Linked DNA regions of Homo sapiens: region 1 is linked to region 2. The links come from fine-mapping of genetic effects on gene expression. A gene starts in region 2. The other region holds a variant in brackets. All regions are shown on one strand. Distances are from middle to middle.

What was found.
Region 1: its variant is fine-mapped to the expression of DOCK3 in whole blood (TOPMed, PIP above 0.99).

The regions. Positions count from the first base shown.
Region 1 is chr3:50,568,004-50,576,333 of GRCh38, reverse strand. It overlaps HEMK1 (HemK methyltransferase 1, mitochondrial release factors N(5)-glutamine), which reads right to left and starts at 6,812. Exons shown (of 11, transcript NM_016173.5): 1 at 6,760-6,812; 2 at 5,002-5,403; 3 at 4,533-4,624; 4 at 4,126-4,219. The coding sequence starts at 5,229. It also overlaps a transcript of C3orf18 not described here. RefSeq lists an enhancer at 6,888-7,007. The variant A/C (reference allele first, on the strand shown) is at 4,141.
Region 2 is chr3:50,671,195-50,679,524 of GRCh38, reverse strand. DOCK3 (dedicator of cytokinesis 3) reads right to left here and starts at 4,598. Exons shown (of 53, transcript NM_004947.5): 1 at 4,225-4,598. The coding sequence starts at 4,261. LINC02019 (long intergenic non-protein coding RNA 2019) reads right to left here. Exons shown (of 2, transcript NR_183733.1): 2 at 7,474-8,154. It overlaps MIR4787 (microRNA 4787), which reads right to left and starts at 4,445; the gene lies at 4,362-4,445. RefSeq lists a silencer at 4,345-4,634.

The sequences.
Region 1 (8,330 bases), 100 kb after region 2:
AATCTGTTAAATCCTCACAAGTGTCCCATGAGGAAACTGAGGCCTGGGGTCAAGGCCCCACCTGAGCCTGGCCTGTGGTTTCATGGTGGCCAAGAATCAGGAGCTGGTGTGTCCCCAGCCTCCTCACAGAGCTGGGCTTGAGAGGCCCCCAGGGAGGCTCCTAGGCCAAAGGGACAGGGAATTCCCTCTTTTGGAGGAGATGGGCCATGGGGGGACATGGTCCTGACTAAGGACCTGAGGGCTGTGGCATACACAGGCATAGGTCAACAGGCATGGGTGCAGAGGGAGGTGCCTGACTGCACTGTACCTGCCCTGGCAGCAGGAGGACATTTTCAGACACTGTCACTTTGGAAACAAGAGGGTTTCAAGCCTTGCCTACCCAGCCACTGCCTGCAAGGACTATGCCTGTAAACCAACATAGGGTAGGGGTAAAGGGTGGAAGGCTCCTGCCGTCCAATGGCCAAAATTTTTCTAACCAGCAGTGGAGTGGGACACCTGAGTAGCCAGGCATGAGACAAGGAAAGGGCAGTGTAGCTCCTTCTCAAAGGCATCCCTTTGGATGTGGGCAGAGAAGCCCCCCAGAGGGTCAGGACTCCTGGGACCCCAGGTCTCAGGAAAGACTGGCTCAGGGAGCTGGGGATGGTGGGCAGCAAGTGGGTGCTTCCCTGATCTGAAAAGAGGACTACCTATTCCAGAAAGCCTTCCTCAAGCCTGGGCCAGGCTCTACCACGGCTTTCTCCACCCTGAGCCTAAGGTCTAGCCTAAGGATGGGGTGTGCCTCTCCCACCAGACGCCATAATAGGAAGACCTGAGGTCTGACTCATCGCAGTGTGTCCCACACTGGCAGGGCTTGGCCCACAGACAAACCTCTTGGCTACTTTCTTTTTTTCTTTTCTTTTCTTTTTTTTTTTGAGACAGAGTTTCGCTCTGTTGCCCAGGCTGGAGTACAATGGCGCGATCTTGGCTCACCGCAACCTCCGCCTCCCAAGTTCAAGCGATTCGCCTGTCTCAGCCTTCCCAAGTAGCTGGGATTACAGGCATGCACCATTGTGCCTGGCTAATTTTGTATTTTTAGTAGAGACAGGGTTTCTCCACGTTGGTCAGGCTGGTCTCGAACTCCCGACCTCAGGTGATCTACCCGCCTCAGCCTCCCAAAGTGCTGGGATTACAGGTGTAAGCCACAGCGCCTGGCCCTCTTGGCTACTTTCTAAGTGATGGGCAAGCTCTCTGTGGCACCACCCTCTGAGTCTCACACCCCCAGGTCTCCCCCACACCCCAATGCCATCAGCCAGGCCCAATGGAGCAGAGGGCTCCAGATCACTCACACCCATTTTCCACATAAGTTCCCCAGTGCTGGGTTCCAAAAAGCATCTCACCCTTCCAGGCCCCCAAACCCAGCAACAATGTTCACCCACCCTGAGGGTGGCAAGTCCAAAGCAGGCAGAACTTGGCCAGCAGGTCCAACCCTCCATGTTCCAAGCCTCTTCTGCACCTAACAAATGATTGCCTGTGGGTGAGGGGGCCCAGTTCCAGCAGGAGAGAGTGTGTATTCACTAGCTCTCACCAGCCCTGTGCCAGGCACTACTGGAGACCACTAAGGTACTTGTGGCAAGCTTAGCCTGCAAGGTTGGGCCAGGTACAGAGTGAGCAGTATAGGGCTGTGGCTGAGAGCCTGTGGTCTCAGTGGTGAGGCCACAAGCTGAGAGGTTGGTAGGGTGACCAGTTGTTGTCAGGTGTGTAAGCCTCTCTTGGTTTCCTGGTCATAGACAGACCTACTCTGGCTGGAGAATGACCCCTCAGCCAGCCACACTGGCCAGCCACCTCACAGAGATACTCAAAGACCTCAAAGACACACACCACGTATGTGGATGGCCACCTTGGGGAGGGTAAGAAGCTAAGAAACTGAGCCCCTGCCACCACTAGTGGCCTCTTGTTTGCCATAACACTCCAGAGCACCGGAAACTCATCTTGGTTGTAGAGCCACCTGGGGCAGGGGTAGATAACAGCCCAAGGAGTCCAGAAACTTTCTCTTCTCCTCCTAGTGAAGAGCCTCCCTCAGCCTAACGCTGGTGGCTCTTTCGGCAAGACTAAAAGCCATGCTGGTCACAGGCTCAGGGCACCCCCTCCAGGTGAATATGGTAAGAATCCAAGAACAGGGTGGGGCACAGACGCATGCGGGAAAGAGGTGAGGGGCAGGCAGTTGTTGGCTCTGCCTAGAACTGCTGCCCCAACATGGACTCCATACCCCATCAAGAGGCTGGCCCAAGGCCTGGGCAGAACCTAAGTGCCCATGAGTACCCTCTATTAGGATGGCATCCCTGGTGGGGCAGACCCAGGGAGGTGGCATTGCCTCCTTCAAGCCAATCACAGACAAAACACTGAGCCTCCCACAACCTGTACAGCCTCACAGCAGGCTGGGTGAGAATGGTTCACACCCCCAGCCCTGAGTTTCCTACTGTATTCACTGCCAGGCCAGGGGCTGAACCACCTTCTCACCCTTAGGGAAAATGCAACTCACTGGGCACATGCCTCCTGCAAGTTTGCACTTCAGACTCCCCTTTCATCAGAAACCATCCCCTGCACCCATTCTCACTACTCCCTGCCACAGGCCACGTCCTCTTGAGTTCTTGGTAAGGCATCCCCCGATGTGGCTTTACATTGGGGTGAACCTGGTGAGTTCTCAGAAATGTCTGCACAGCAAGATGAGCACCTGGCCTCCCAATCGCAGCATCTCCCCTCACCCCACCCCTTGCAGTAGAGCTGCTCTCTTGGCCCAGACCCATCCAAGAATCAGGGGGCCACATGGGAGCCAAAGTCCACACTTGATACTCAGAACCCTGGCACATATGGCTGGTGCCAGGTCAGCTCTGAAGGAACTCAAAAGTCACCATGCCCTGACCCTGGGAAGCCGGAGACAGCAAATGATCTCTTCGCCAGAGATCACGTGTTTTCAGGAGCCACAGGTAAGCCTCCCAAAGTCTGCAGGTGGCAGGCCACACCCTGCTCTGGGTCTCCATACTGTGTCCTAGGTCATGCCAATCCCAGATGGGGCAGCCCCATGTGAGGGATGGGGCTCTGAGCTGGGAGTCAGGAAGTCCACGTGCTGCCCCCATGCTCCCTTCCTTGACAGCCCTGTGACTTCAGCAAGGCCTCAGATTCCCTACTGTCCCTGCCCTGACACTGGGCAGTGAAGCAAGGACCTGGCCTCCCAACCACATGATATGGAGAGGAGAGGGGTCAGAGAGTTTCTTGGCTAGGGGACAGAAGCTGAGAAAGTGAAAGAAGGGTTTGGGGCCCCCTGGCCACAGCAGGGGAATGGGAACTAACCTTTCCCAGAAATGTTTGTGTGCCTAGGTCTTTCTAGAAACACTCCTTCTCAGAACCTGGCGCCCTCTGGCTTGCCCACCAGCTCTCACCCAGCTCTACTCCCTGGTCTGCGCCCTCTGGCTCCCAGCTCTGTCATCTACAAGGTCAGAGGGGAGTCCAAGAAGGGCCATATAAAGCGTCTCTTCCAGGACCAGGGTGCCTTACCAAGGGATAACACACTTGCGCCACACATCCCTAGTCCTAGTAATTTGAGGGACAACACAGGTGATTACCAGACCAGTCAGTAGACCTAAGAGGGCCACCAGATTCTCTGGGCTGGAGGGCTAACCCTCTCATCATCTGGGCCCAGAGATGGCAGGAGGGCAGTGACCTGCCCAAGGTTGCACAGCTGATACCAGGTCTCCAGGTGTCCGGCTGGAGCCCTCTCCACTTCCTCCATGCCTCCTGAGAAGCTGCTGGAAGACATTTGTTCCCTGTGGGTTGGGTGAGCCATGGGATGGCTCCCAGAGAAATGGCAGAACAGGCTAAGTACTTGGGCAGCACTATTTGAGGCACTCTGGGCCATTGCCAGACCTAGAGGCTGGGTTGATAGCTTGGAACATAACAGTCAAGGGGACCAACAGGAATCCTCTGTCCTCTGGGCTCTGCCAACACAGTCAGAGAGGAAATACATGTCTAGAAAGGCACTGTCCCTGAAGTCATGGGGCCCCAGTGCCCCCTGGAGGAAGCCTGGGGTAAGACTGGTGCCCTGAACTCCACCATCATCCTGATCCTGCCTTGCCCTGGTGGCACACCTACCTCTGTTTCTGGCCG[A/C]GGAATAAACACTGGGGGCACCATCCTTAGGCTGAGCCCCTGGAAGTCCCACTCTCCAAGGATGTACTGCACCGGCATCCTGCAGAGGGGGCAGCTGGGTGGTCATCAGGGACAGAGCTAGGACCAACAGGACCATGCCTGGGTTGAGATACCACTTGTGGCCAAAGGTATCAGGCAAGACCATGTCTCCAGGGCCTTGGGACTCCTGAGGCAAAACCCTCCCTCCCTCCCTTCTTCCTATTCAGTACCCCGGCCCCACTCTTGCCACTCCTGCACCCCAACACCTCCCTAGTCCTTGGACATTCTCCTCCTCCCTGAACTTGGTGGGGATAGGGGAGGCTGGACTGCTGCTCCCTGAACACATCCTTCAGGTCTGATCCATGGGTGCTCACCTCTGCAATCGACGGCTACTCAGCTCCCGGATACACTGTAGTTGCTGAGAGGTCAAGGGCTGGGTCCAAAGTGCCGGCCTCAGGCTCTGAAACTGTCCCCACAGAGAATATAAGTGGCTGGCTCACTGGGCCCAAGGCCCCCAACCCAGGTGTCTTATGTGGATAATGCCTGCCCAGCACTGGTCTGGAGGCCCAACCCTCTCATCATCTGGGCCCAGAGGGGGCAGCATCCTGCCTAAGGTTACACAGCTAACACCAGGCTTCCAGGTGTCTATCCCAGAACACTTAGGCAGAGATATATTCATTCATCCAACAAACTGTTACAGTGTGTGCCAGGCGCTAAGACGTTCCTTCAGAAAAATCCCATCAGTCTCAGCTAAGCACTCTTAGTGAACAGAAAACCTGGATATCCCTTCCCCAAGTCCTCCCTCCTCCCTCTTCCTGTCCTCTTGACAACACTAAACTTAACTGTTTTGGCTCCAAGGACATGAGCCACGATGTACTCACTGGATTCCCGGGCCTCAGGGATACCCCTCTTCTCAAAGACCCCAGTCCAGTGGCTGACCAGTTCTATGGCACTGGATAACCCAGCCAGAGGTGGTTGGGGTTGCCATGAGCTGAAGGCCCAGCCCCGGGTACTTCCCCTCCTCCCTGGGCCAGACAGGAGGGCCCACAGCATTCGGCCCCAAAGCTCCATGTCTCAGGGAAAGGTTCTCCAGAGTGCTTCCAGGTTCCCAAGTCTGCTTTATGATGTCAGCTGCTGAGGTGAGTGCTGAGAGTGGCCCCTGGACCCAGCTGGGTGGAGATGGAGAGGTCACAAGCTCTGGTGCCCCAAAATGGCTCTGGTCCTCAGATATAGTTGGTTGCCACCCTGGGAGTGAGAGGAACCAGGAAAGCAGGTGAGCCTTGTATGACACCCCCCCTTCTACCAATACATTGCCTGAGAATAGTTGTGCTCTTGCTCTGACACCCCCTTGACTCCATTTAGAGCCTTACCCACCTATTTGATCATTCTTGTCTTGGCCACTTACGTTTTCTTCACATTTTTAGCTGGAGTGGGCTGAGCCCATAGCTCAGTCTCTGCTAATAAACGGGTTGGTGGTAGGTTAGGGCACATATGTGGGGACAGGACAGATCTGTGTCTAACCTAGCGTGTGTGATCTTGAGCAAGTCATTATTTCTGATTTTCACTTTCTTAATCCATAAGATGGGGGAAAATCACACCAAACCCATGGCAAGCAATGCATTAGTCTATGAATATCCAAGGCCTGGGAGGCAGCTCAACACACAGCAGGGACCAGATGTTACATGATCTTAACTGATGTTACAAGAGGCAGATGATTGCCTTTAATTGGGAGCTTTGAATCTGACATTGTGTGTGTACTGTCATGGATGTACATGCTGAAAATTTCCTCCTAATTTAACCTATAATCCGGGACATCAGCGTAAACCACCAACTAAAAAATTTACAATTGTATATTTAAAGAGGTCACAAGCAAGTTTAACTGAAGGTTTAAAATCAGCGGTCCCCTTTGCTTCCAGATAAAAGTCCAAACTAGCGTTTATTAAGCACCTGCTAAGTGCCACATCTTCAGATACAAGTAGGGTCAGAGAAGGGAAGCGACTTGCCCAGCGTCACTCAGGTAGAAACTGTCCCAGGCAAGCTGGGCACGGTGGCTCACGCCTGTAATCCCAGCACTCTGGGAGGCCGAGGTGGGCGGATCACGAGGTCAGGAGTTCGAGACCAGCCTGGCCAGCATGGTGAAACCCTGTCTCTACTAAAAATACAAAAAATTGGCCGGGCATACTGACGCGCACCTGTAGTCCCAGCTACTTGGGAGGCTGAGGCAGGAGAACTGCTTGAACCCAGTTCAAGCAGGCGGAAGTTGCAGCGAGCCGCGGTCATGCCACTGCACTCCAGCCTGGGTGCCAGAGAGAGACTCCGTCTCAAAAAAAAGAAAAAAAAGACTGTCCCAGGCAAGACACGAACCCGAGTCCACCAGACTCCAGAAGCGGCTCTTGCACCAGTGCGCCGTCCCAGGAGCCAAGGCCCGAAGTCAGAAGTGTAAACTCCCTCACAGCTACGCACCGCATTGTTAACGACCCAGATGAGGCCCCCTCTCTCCAACCCTGTTTCCCCATCTGCACTATGGAGAATGGTACCGGCCAGGTCTCCAGGCGGTTGCAGTCGAAACACCCCGTTCCGATCCCCACCTCCCATGCATACCTGCCTGAAAGGCTGCCCCACCCACCCACCAGCCGGAGAAGCTGCCCCGAACTGGACGCCCGGACGTGCGTGGCCCGTCGCGCGCTCCCTCGGACGCCCCGCTTCCGGGGTCGGCGCCTTTAAGAAAAGGCTCGGGCGGACGCCGTAGCCCAGCTTCAGTGTTCCTATCGCTGGTGGGTTCCTCCCAGGAGACCCCTGCGGATGGGTGGGGAGGCTGTGAATTCCACTCCCTCTACGCTCGCAGGCCTGCATACAGGAAAGTGCGGGGATGTGTGTGGGGTTGACCCTTGGGGGCCCGGACCTGCCGGTCTTCCTTAAAATCACAGCAGGGATTTGGCTCCAGCCCAAGGGGATTGCTCCGAGCTGGCGTTTAGGAACCAGGCCGGGAGGTGTGTGGGCGGAGCCCAGTAGCCTGCCGGAAAGGGGGCGTGTCACCAGAGGGCCCGGGTGTTCCGGCGGGGACCAGATGTCCGGGGGCGTGGTCTATCTTAGCCTGGGGGCCGGGTGGAGCTGTGCATGGGCGGGTTCCAGTGTTGAAGGCTGGTCCAACTTTGGGGTCCAGTCCCAGTGTCGTGACCCTACCGAGGTCAGTGGCCCGAGCCCACCAGGGGGTCGGCCGACTGGCGGCCAGACCCCAGGGGCCGCTCTTTTACCGATTCGAATCTTGACTCTATTGGCAACTCCTCCAGGTGTTGGGACCTCTGGACCTCAGTTGCGCCTTCTATAAAATACTCGGCAGCGTCTCGCAAAGTGTGTCTTGTCAACATCTCCCCACCAGAAAGTACTGTTAACTAGAACACTGTTAACTACTTTTTTTTTCTTTTTTTCTTTTTTTTTTTTTTTTTTTTTGAGACGGAGTTTTGCTCTTGTTGCGCAGGCTGAAGTACAATGGCGCGATCTCTGCTCACTGCAACCTCGGCCTCCGGGTTCAAGCCATTCTCCTGCCTCAGCCTCCCAAGTAGCTGGGATTACAGGCGTGAGCCAACACGACCGGCTAATTCTGTATTTTTAATAGAGACAGGGTTTCACCATGTTGGTCAGGCTGGTCTCGAACTCCTGACTTCAGGTGATCCATCGCCTCGGCCTCTCAAAGTGCTGGGATTACAGGAGTGAGCCACCACGCCCGGCCTTAAACTGCTATTAAACATGCTGTTTCCCTGCCTCCTTCCCAGACCGGGAGACACAGGGGCGTTTGCATTTGTACCAGGCTACCCGGTGACTCCCATAAACTACTTTGAAAACCGGCGGATCAGGAGTATCTGAGGGCTCCTTCCCTGAGCTGATCATGCCGTGGATGGAAGCTATTGTGAGGGTATATGTAGACTTGCCTGGGTCGGGGTGCCCAATAATAAATCCACCCCACTCTCAACTTCTGTAGACGAAGATTCCCCATCTTCGTCTAGAACCCTCACACCAGAGGACCCGTCTGAGTAGAAAGCCAAGGTTCAGGAAGGGAAAAGCAGTTTCTTCAAGGTCACAAAGTCAGCCAGAGTTCAGTGCAGGCCCAAGGACTCCCAGTCCAGTGCTCTCCCCAAGTCTCCTCTGTACATCCATCCGCGTTTTGGGGGCTT
Region 2 (8,330 bases):
GTTTGTTTGTTTGTTTGTTTGTTTTTAAGTGCTTTTCTTCCCTATCTGGAGAAACCTAACCAAAAGGAAGTTAGGTAAAAATAATGCATAAAATACGCATTACTTTTTAAATAGGAAAAAATAAATATAACATTACAAAACTAAAATGTAAGGTCTTCAGATTGGTAATGAGAAAAATTTTTCATGTTCTACTAAGAGGGATTAATAAAAAATAAGCAATAAATGCCCTAAATTACTCAAAAATTTGCCTTAGCTGGGCACAGTGGCTCACAGGTATAATCCCAGTGACTTGGGAGGCTGAGGTGGGAGGATAGCTTGAAGCCAGCAGTTTGAGACAAGCCTGGGCAACATAGCAAGACCATGTCACTAAAAAAAATTTTTTTTAATTAAAATTTAAAAATTAGCCAGGCAAGGCTGGGCGCAGTGGTTCATGCCTGTAATCCCAGCACTTCGGGAGGCCGAGGCGAGCGGATCACAAGGTCAGGAGATTGAGGCCCTCCTGGCTAACATGGTGAAACCTCATCTCTACTAAAAATACAAAAACAAAATTAGCCGGGCATGGTGGCGGGCACCTGTAGTCCCAGCTACTCGGGAGGCTGAGGCAGGAGAATGGCATGAACCTGGGAGGCAGAGCTTGCAGTGAGCCGAGATCACGCCACTGCACTCCAGCCTGGACGACAGAGCAAGACTCCGTCTCAAAAAAAGAAAAAAAAAAATTAGGCAGGCAAGGTAGTAAACACCTGTAGTCCCAGCTACTTGGGAGACTGCTGCAGGGGGATCGCTTGAGCCCAGGAGTTCAAGGCTGCAGTAAGCTATGATCATGCCGCTGCACTCCAGCCTGGATGACAAGAGCAGGACCCCACCTCTCAAAAAAAAAAAATTGCCTAATGACAGCAGCAGAATAAACAAGATGACCTTCTGAAGCAGCTTCCACTTCTAAGACGTCAAACTAATACCTATGTACTCAAACCTTTACCACTTTTCTATTCAAGGAGTGTAATTACAAACATTTTTGTTTTAAAAACTGTTGGTGCTTGCTGCTCCTGCTGTTGCTCCTGTTAGAGGGTGAGAAAAGCATTTTCTTGGTTTTTGTATTCTATATTTGGTACTCTGGGTACAGTCAGTATAGGGAAAGACAGGTGTTTCACAAAAATAGCTGGATTTTTCTCACCTAATACACTTTAGAGCAGGAAGCTTCTTGGAAAGGTAGAATAAAGAATGGAAGGATGCAGGACTTTCCAAGCATTCATGGCAACAGAAAGGAAAGCAGAGATTCTCTAAGAGGGAAAGGGACATAAGAAGTCAAAACACGGGCGAACGGGTACAGTAAAGAACAGTACCTTACAGTACCACAAAAAGAAAGCAAGACAGTCAAGTATTTCACAAAATACTGCCCACTGCCAAGAAGAAAATTAAGAAAAATATACAATCGTTGAAGGACAAAAAAAAAAAAATTAACAACCTTTGGGATCCAGTTTCTTTATCTGTGTAATAATGATAACATTAAGACTACTCTGGGAATCGACATGGGGTTACCTAAGTGAGAGTCCCAGGCACACTGACAGGCCTATCACTGACCCTCAGAAAGGATAATGTCCTCCCCACTGCCTAAAATCACTCACAGAATATTACAATGGAAAGGGGGGCTCAGTCATCACCTCATCCTAAATGAATAAACCAAACAATTCAGTCATGTTATAACCTGTACAGAATTCCTATATTATAAAAAATTTAATAAGTATTACTACAGGATCTCAAAGCCTTATCAATGTCAAATACAAATGAACAGCTGCAGTGGAAAAAACCCTTTGTACTGCTGCAACAGGGGACTCCTTCCCTCACTAACATCAGGGCAAAAGGAGGCCCTCGAGGCCCTCCTCCACAAATTTCTCCAAATTGGTAGGAAGTAAGTGTAAGGGGTTTCCCTCCTTGCTATGTGATTATAGGTTGACAAACAAAGACACAAATCTGTGCTCCAAGTTAGTCATAAAAATCAAAGCTGAAACTCAAACATTTTCTCACAGGAAAATGATAATGGTTATATTTTCAAGCTAGCCCTCATAGCAATCAAATGATGCAGCAAAAATGCCGTTTTAATTGACTATTTTTCTCATAAGTATAATGTATAAGCTACTTTATAAAGTGGATTTTATGAAAAGTTCTAGAAGTGTAGCCCTAACATCCTTATGAAAAAAAATGTGTCCTGAGTTTTAAACAATTTACACAAAAACTTTTAGATCATAACTAAGGAAGGGACAGTGGAAGACTGTGAGATAAATAGAGAGTTGCTTGGTTTGGTAGAAAAGGCATCTAAGTTATGCTAAACCACAGCTGCTATGAAAATGTCTTCAGTGTAACTGTCTCTCTCATTTAGCAAGCATTAAGCTCTGCCCTGAGCCCAATGCTGTGGCCCTCCAAAGGGAATAACAATTTTTCTAAAGCTAAAAACACAATCCTAGGAATGCAAGAATTTCGTTGCATCTTGCTGGGAAAATCACACACCAAATCCTAGTGCTTTGAGATTCACATGTACCTATCTTGATTACCTTGCACTGGCTCTGTCTCAGAACACACTTAGTGTTATTAGTCTAAATACTAAGGGAAAAGAAGAAACTATTAAGCATTCAGCACGTTCTCATTTCACTTTCACAATCCTGTAAGATAGGTAAACATTATCCCCAATTTATACATTAATAAAATGACGTTAAATGATGTTAAATTACTTGCCCACACCACCAGTAAAGAGAAGCTAGGACTCTGAATTCCACTTTGTCCACTATTCAAGGGCTCCTCCCCCCACGCCCCCACCCCCGCCAAAATAGGGCTCCTCCCCCCTCCAAAAAAATCAATCATGGGGTGCCACTGGAGAGTTGACCACTCACATCAATTATTTGTTATTCTAGTTCAGCAGTTCTGGGAGCGAGTTATGGAGAAGATAAACCACCAACTCCTCACTTCACAGAATCAACTCAGTATTCAGGGAATACTCTAAGAGAAGGGGTAAAATGTCCCTAGAGGTGAATCCCAGCTCTTCGCATCATTTCTCAATTCCTTCTCAATAGAGACTCTAGGACCAGAGCTCCCTTTATCACCTCCATCCTAACATACCTAATTGTTTCAGAAAGTTACCTTTTAAAACAAGATCTTCTACCAGAATAGAAGACCTCTCTGCTGGTCCTCGAATTTAAATAAATTCAATTTTCACACGATAACCTGCCTGATAGCATTCCAAAACATTCGTTACCACTGCAGTTTCAAGTTATTTTGTAGTGAATTGTGAACTAAATCTTGATTAAATTGCGGTAAAGATGGGAAACAAAAATCTATGTTTAGACAGGTTTCCTATCTAAAATTTTCCATTACGAGCTTAGGAAAAACAAAACCTGTACACTCAACATTTTAAATCTGTTTCTAACTGAACAAGATGATAGGTGATGCAATGAGGCTTAACTCTATCATGTAATTGCCACAAAACACTAACATTGTAAAACATTCAATACTTTAAATTACTGAATATTCTTTTTAAAGAAGTTGAATATTGTAAGAATTATTTAGCTTCTGGAGTTTAACACTTACAACATTAAAAAAAGGTTTCTAAGAGGAATAAGGTCTCATCTGAAAACAGGGTTTAAAAAAAAAACCGTATAAACATTGATACATGTCCAAAAACATTTCCCATCGTAAGGTATTATTTCTAATACTAAAGGCAAAACAAATTAAAACAGATCAAACATTTGCAGTCAAATGTCCAAATTTTTGAACTGGGAAAATGATGTCAACGTTTTTCATCCGTTTTCTTGTAAGGTTCCAGATCAAAAATAAACAGCCATCGGGCTCATCAATTCAGGTGCGGAAACTCATTAAAATCGAGCTTTTGGAGGGGAGAAAACATATTCCCAGAATTTGGTTTATCGGGTAAAATTGCCCCGTGGCCCACACCAGAAACCTCGGGCAACTGCCCGGGCCTTGCCCACCCCTCCCGCGGGCCGCACCTGCCAAGGCCGCACCGCCAGCGCCCCCTGCCGCCCTCTCTGCACAGAGACCCGCGCCCACCCCCGCACCCGCACCCGCACCCGCACCTGCCCCCACCCCGCGCTCGCCCCGCGCCGAGGCCGCGCAGCCTGCGGGCAGTGGCGGGGGCACGAGGATGCGAATCCAGGCGGGGCCGGGAGCTGGGCGCGTCCCCCAGAACCCCCGCCACGGCCAGGCCTGAGCCTCACCTACCTACGCCGTATTTCTCCTCCTCCGTGGGGGTCCACATGGCCGTGCCGGGCGCGGCCCCGCGGGCGCGGCGACCGGGCGACAACGCGGCGGGGACGGCCGCGGGCCCGGCTGTGGCGCACCGCGAGTCGAGGCGGGGACGGTCAGGCGGCGCGGGGCAGTGGGCGGCGCATCCCTCACAGGCCGTCCGGGATGCCGCCGCCACCCCCGCCACGTCTGGACCGCGAGGCTCCGCGGGTGGCCCAGCAGCCCCTGGCGGCGCGGGCGAAGGCTCGCCACCTGTCCGTCGCCGCTGCTCCCGTGCCGCCGCTTGCTTCTTCACAGCTCCGCCGCCCGGCTCCCGGCGCCGCCGCGGCTCGGCTCGCCCCAGCGGGCTCGCAGGACGCCCGCGCATGCGCCACTCCCTGCCGCGCAGGGGCTCGCGCTGCCCGGGCTCGCGCCGTCCCGAGCCCGCGCGCGAATCCACGCGCCGCTGCTGCGCGCCAGCGGAGGGAAATCCGCGAGAAGCTATTGGACTGCCCGGCCCCGGACCGGCTTCTAGAATCGCTGGTCCGGGGCCCTCAGCTGCAGCAAACCCCGGAGGGGGCGAAGCCGGTCAGGTGGGCGACTCCCTCTACCCGGACTCCCCACTCGCTTCCGCTTCCAGTGCCTCCTGCCTGCGCCCCGAGATGGCCACAGGCCTCCTGGTCGGAGAGGGGAGATCCAGAAAAGGAGGACACGACACCATTTTCAGACCCATCCCAGTGTCACCCACAGTGCTGTCGGAAAGGTCCCCGGAGCCACCCTGTGCATTCCCAGGGCCCGCAGGATGGAGTCGCCACGAGGGAACCAGGTGGGGTGCACTCGTGCCCCTCTCTCCTGGATCCCCTGTGGGCTGAGGCCGCTGACACCTCCTGGGTTCTTGCTTCTCTGAGATGGCCTGAGTGGTGAATGTTTGGGGCCAGAACAATCAACAGCCGCCTTGCTAGTAAGGAAGAGCTTCATTGGGCCCTTCGTGTTCCTACCCAGGACACGGCATCTGCTGCTCCTGGGTGTCTGCCTCCCTTGGAGCCCTAAGAACTGGCTCCTACCGGAAACTTTCCTCCTCTCTCTCCTCCCTAAGAATCCATTCATTCTGATGCCTGTAAATGTCACCTTGTGACCCCCAAGTCAACCACTTACCAAAGAACAGGAACTGCAGGACTTCTCCTTTCCACCTACATTTGGACCACATGCTCTAATCCCAGCAGATTTGCCCATCTCTGTCACTAGCACTACTAAGTCAAAACCCTGGTGTCATCCTTCACTAGCACTCTCAGACACCACCACTCTTCAAAGCCCAGCTCAGCCCCTCACCTCCAGGAAGCCTGCCCTGACCCATAGTCTCCTTTCCTTCTTTGTCTGGAATTGGAGCTATGTTCGGTTTGTCTTATTTCCCTTATAAGACTGTCAGCTCCCAGAAGGCAAGCTCCAGGCTAAAATCAACTTTCTAAACCCTCACCACCAACCCAGCACCTGTTGTATAGTTGTTGCATGGGAAGCCAGACTAATAGAAGAATATCTTGCAATCAACAGATCTTGTTGATTCTTCGTTCAAAGTGTCATGATTGGTAACTCCTCCCAGGCCTGACTGTGCTCCCCTGGGTTATGGCCACCCCTTCCCACCTTCGGACCTTTAGGCTCCTCCTCTCACTAATCATAGCTGCCCACTCCCGCCCAGAAAAATGTCTGTTCTGTGAATGATAGAATTTCTCAATAGCCAGGTACACTTCTTTTTAGGGGTAGCAGGGGTGTCCAAGAACATAACGAAAGAGCTAACTGTTCCAAGAAGATAGACCCCTCCCCGGTGGCCACCATGGAAGTATTCTATGGAATGAAGCCACATTCTTACAAAACTCTCCAGGTAGCTATTCAACAAGTGGGGCTGAGCTACGCAGGCCTTCAGGGAACAACCTTAAAGCTCTTATTTCATCCTCTAAGTTCACTCCCTTGTCTGCTGTATGTGATGACAGTCACAGAGCCTAAGGGCCAGTTTTTCCAAAGTTTATACTCTTGTTCCCAGTCTGAATCCATCTTAGATTATGGCTTTCCCAGATGAAGAAAATTCTCCATGATTGCACACCTCAGCTCCAGGGTGGAAGGGCATTAAACCCAACCAGGGAAGGGAAAAGAAGGGACCAAAGTGAGAAGGAAGGGACTTAGTAAGCCTGGACTCCTACACTCTTGCTGTTTGTATAAATTTAGATTGTTTTTGTGAGTTGAAGCAAAAGGGCATAGCACACATTGGCCTTCAGCAGGACCATGCACCTGCTCTCTTATCCCCCTAGCATCTGCTCTGATCCTTTCCTTCCTCAGGCTCCCAGTCCACTCAACACACCACACACACACTCTCTCAGCATATGAGCTGCCTTCCAGCTTGCCTCTGAAAATCGAGACCCTCAGCACAGTAACCTCCCCTCCTCTCCAACTGCTCTTCTTTGTGTTCTCGCCACCACCAGGCTCACTGCCTGCTACTTCTCAGGATCCCCAACTATCATTGCCCTGTCTCCCATTTTCACCCTGACCTGCTCCACAGACTCCTGCGGTCCCAGGAAGACCTGCCCTGTTGGTACCCTCATCCCCCCATTCCCTCTCTCTTCCTCCTCTCTCCATCTGACTACAGAGGAGAATCATCCATTCCAAATCCTTTTATTTCAATGTAATTCATTTGATTCTCACCACCTGAAGGTCTGCGTTCTGACCCTGTCACCTCCTGGAAACTACTTTCCCAGAATTCCCCAGGGCCATCCCAACTTCAGACCATTGCCTTGTTCTGGCTGGGTTTTTGCATAGAGTGTCCCTCAGCTTGTGTCCTCTACTCTTGAAACCCACACATCTGCATCATGCTTCAAGAGCTGTCTCAGGGCCACTTTCCTGAAGAAGGCTTCCCCAACTGCCCTCAGTTCAGCTGGATTTTTTGCACCCATTATGACCTTTTCTGTAGCACTTACTCATTCCACCCTTCTCCAAGAGATCAAATGGGTCTGCTTCTCACATTGGCAAACATCTGTTTTTTTCTTCAGTGACAAGGATTGTTCTTCAATTATTTTTACCTTACACAGAGACTAACATAGTGCCTACCACCTAACATGAATTTAACATACACTCTTGGGTGAATAATCTCCCTGTACGTTTTCTGAGACCATAATGAAATAGGTTGGAAGAGAGAACTGAGATGTTTACCTCAGCAAGTCACAAATCGGCAAACTCAGAAACTCTAATTAATTAAATTTCTTTGTTATAGACATATTGGTTTTAATTAAAAATTCATTGCAATGTCTTATTGAGTAGCTATAAAAAAGATAAACATGATAGAGCAATTTAAAAAACAAAGTATGCAAACAGTTTCACTTATCATGTCACTGTTACTTTTGGGTTTAACTCATTACCTTAGATGATAAATTGCAACTCGATGAGCAAGGAAGGAATCAAGTTTTCTGCAGGAAATTCGTTAAGACTGGTGGCTGTTAAAAATAGCCGATACCCAAACAAATTTTATAAATAATTTACAAGAAATGCAGACAGCATCATCTTTTTCTCTTAGAGTTTAAGTTGATCAATAATTTTTTATCACAAGCAAACTCCATAATGGTAAATCCCCCATCACCTTTGGTGAATGATACTGGCCCTCTACAAAGCTCGATGAGATACACTTCATATCTTCTCTCCTTGTTTTCTGCTGCCTAGAGAATCACACAGCAGCATTTAAGGAGCCAGCCAGTCTGATGACTCAGCTCATAAAACAATGTGTGGCCACAAAGATGATGTTTATCCATGAGCATTCTGGAGGCTCTTGCTACTGAAGTCGGCAAGCAGTGGATAAGTGGCACACGATGCTCATTCTCAAGAGTTTCTGGCAGCGGTGCCAACACAGCACTCACTTCCCTCTCTCAGCAGTTGATTTCATCTGATGCTCTGTCCAAACAGAATGGTAGAAAAAAACATCAGAGAAATGCAGTGGGTATAGAGGCAAATCCAAACAAAGTGCAGGTGATAGTGGTGACATTCTGCCTTCTCTTGATCAGAAGGTGTCAGCAGCTGGAGCTTATCCCCATATGAACCCCAGGGTCAGGTAAATGGAAGACTTAAGA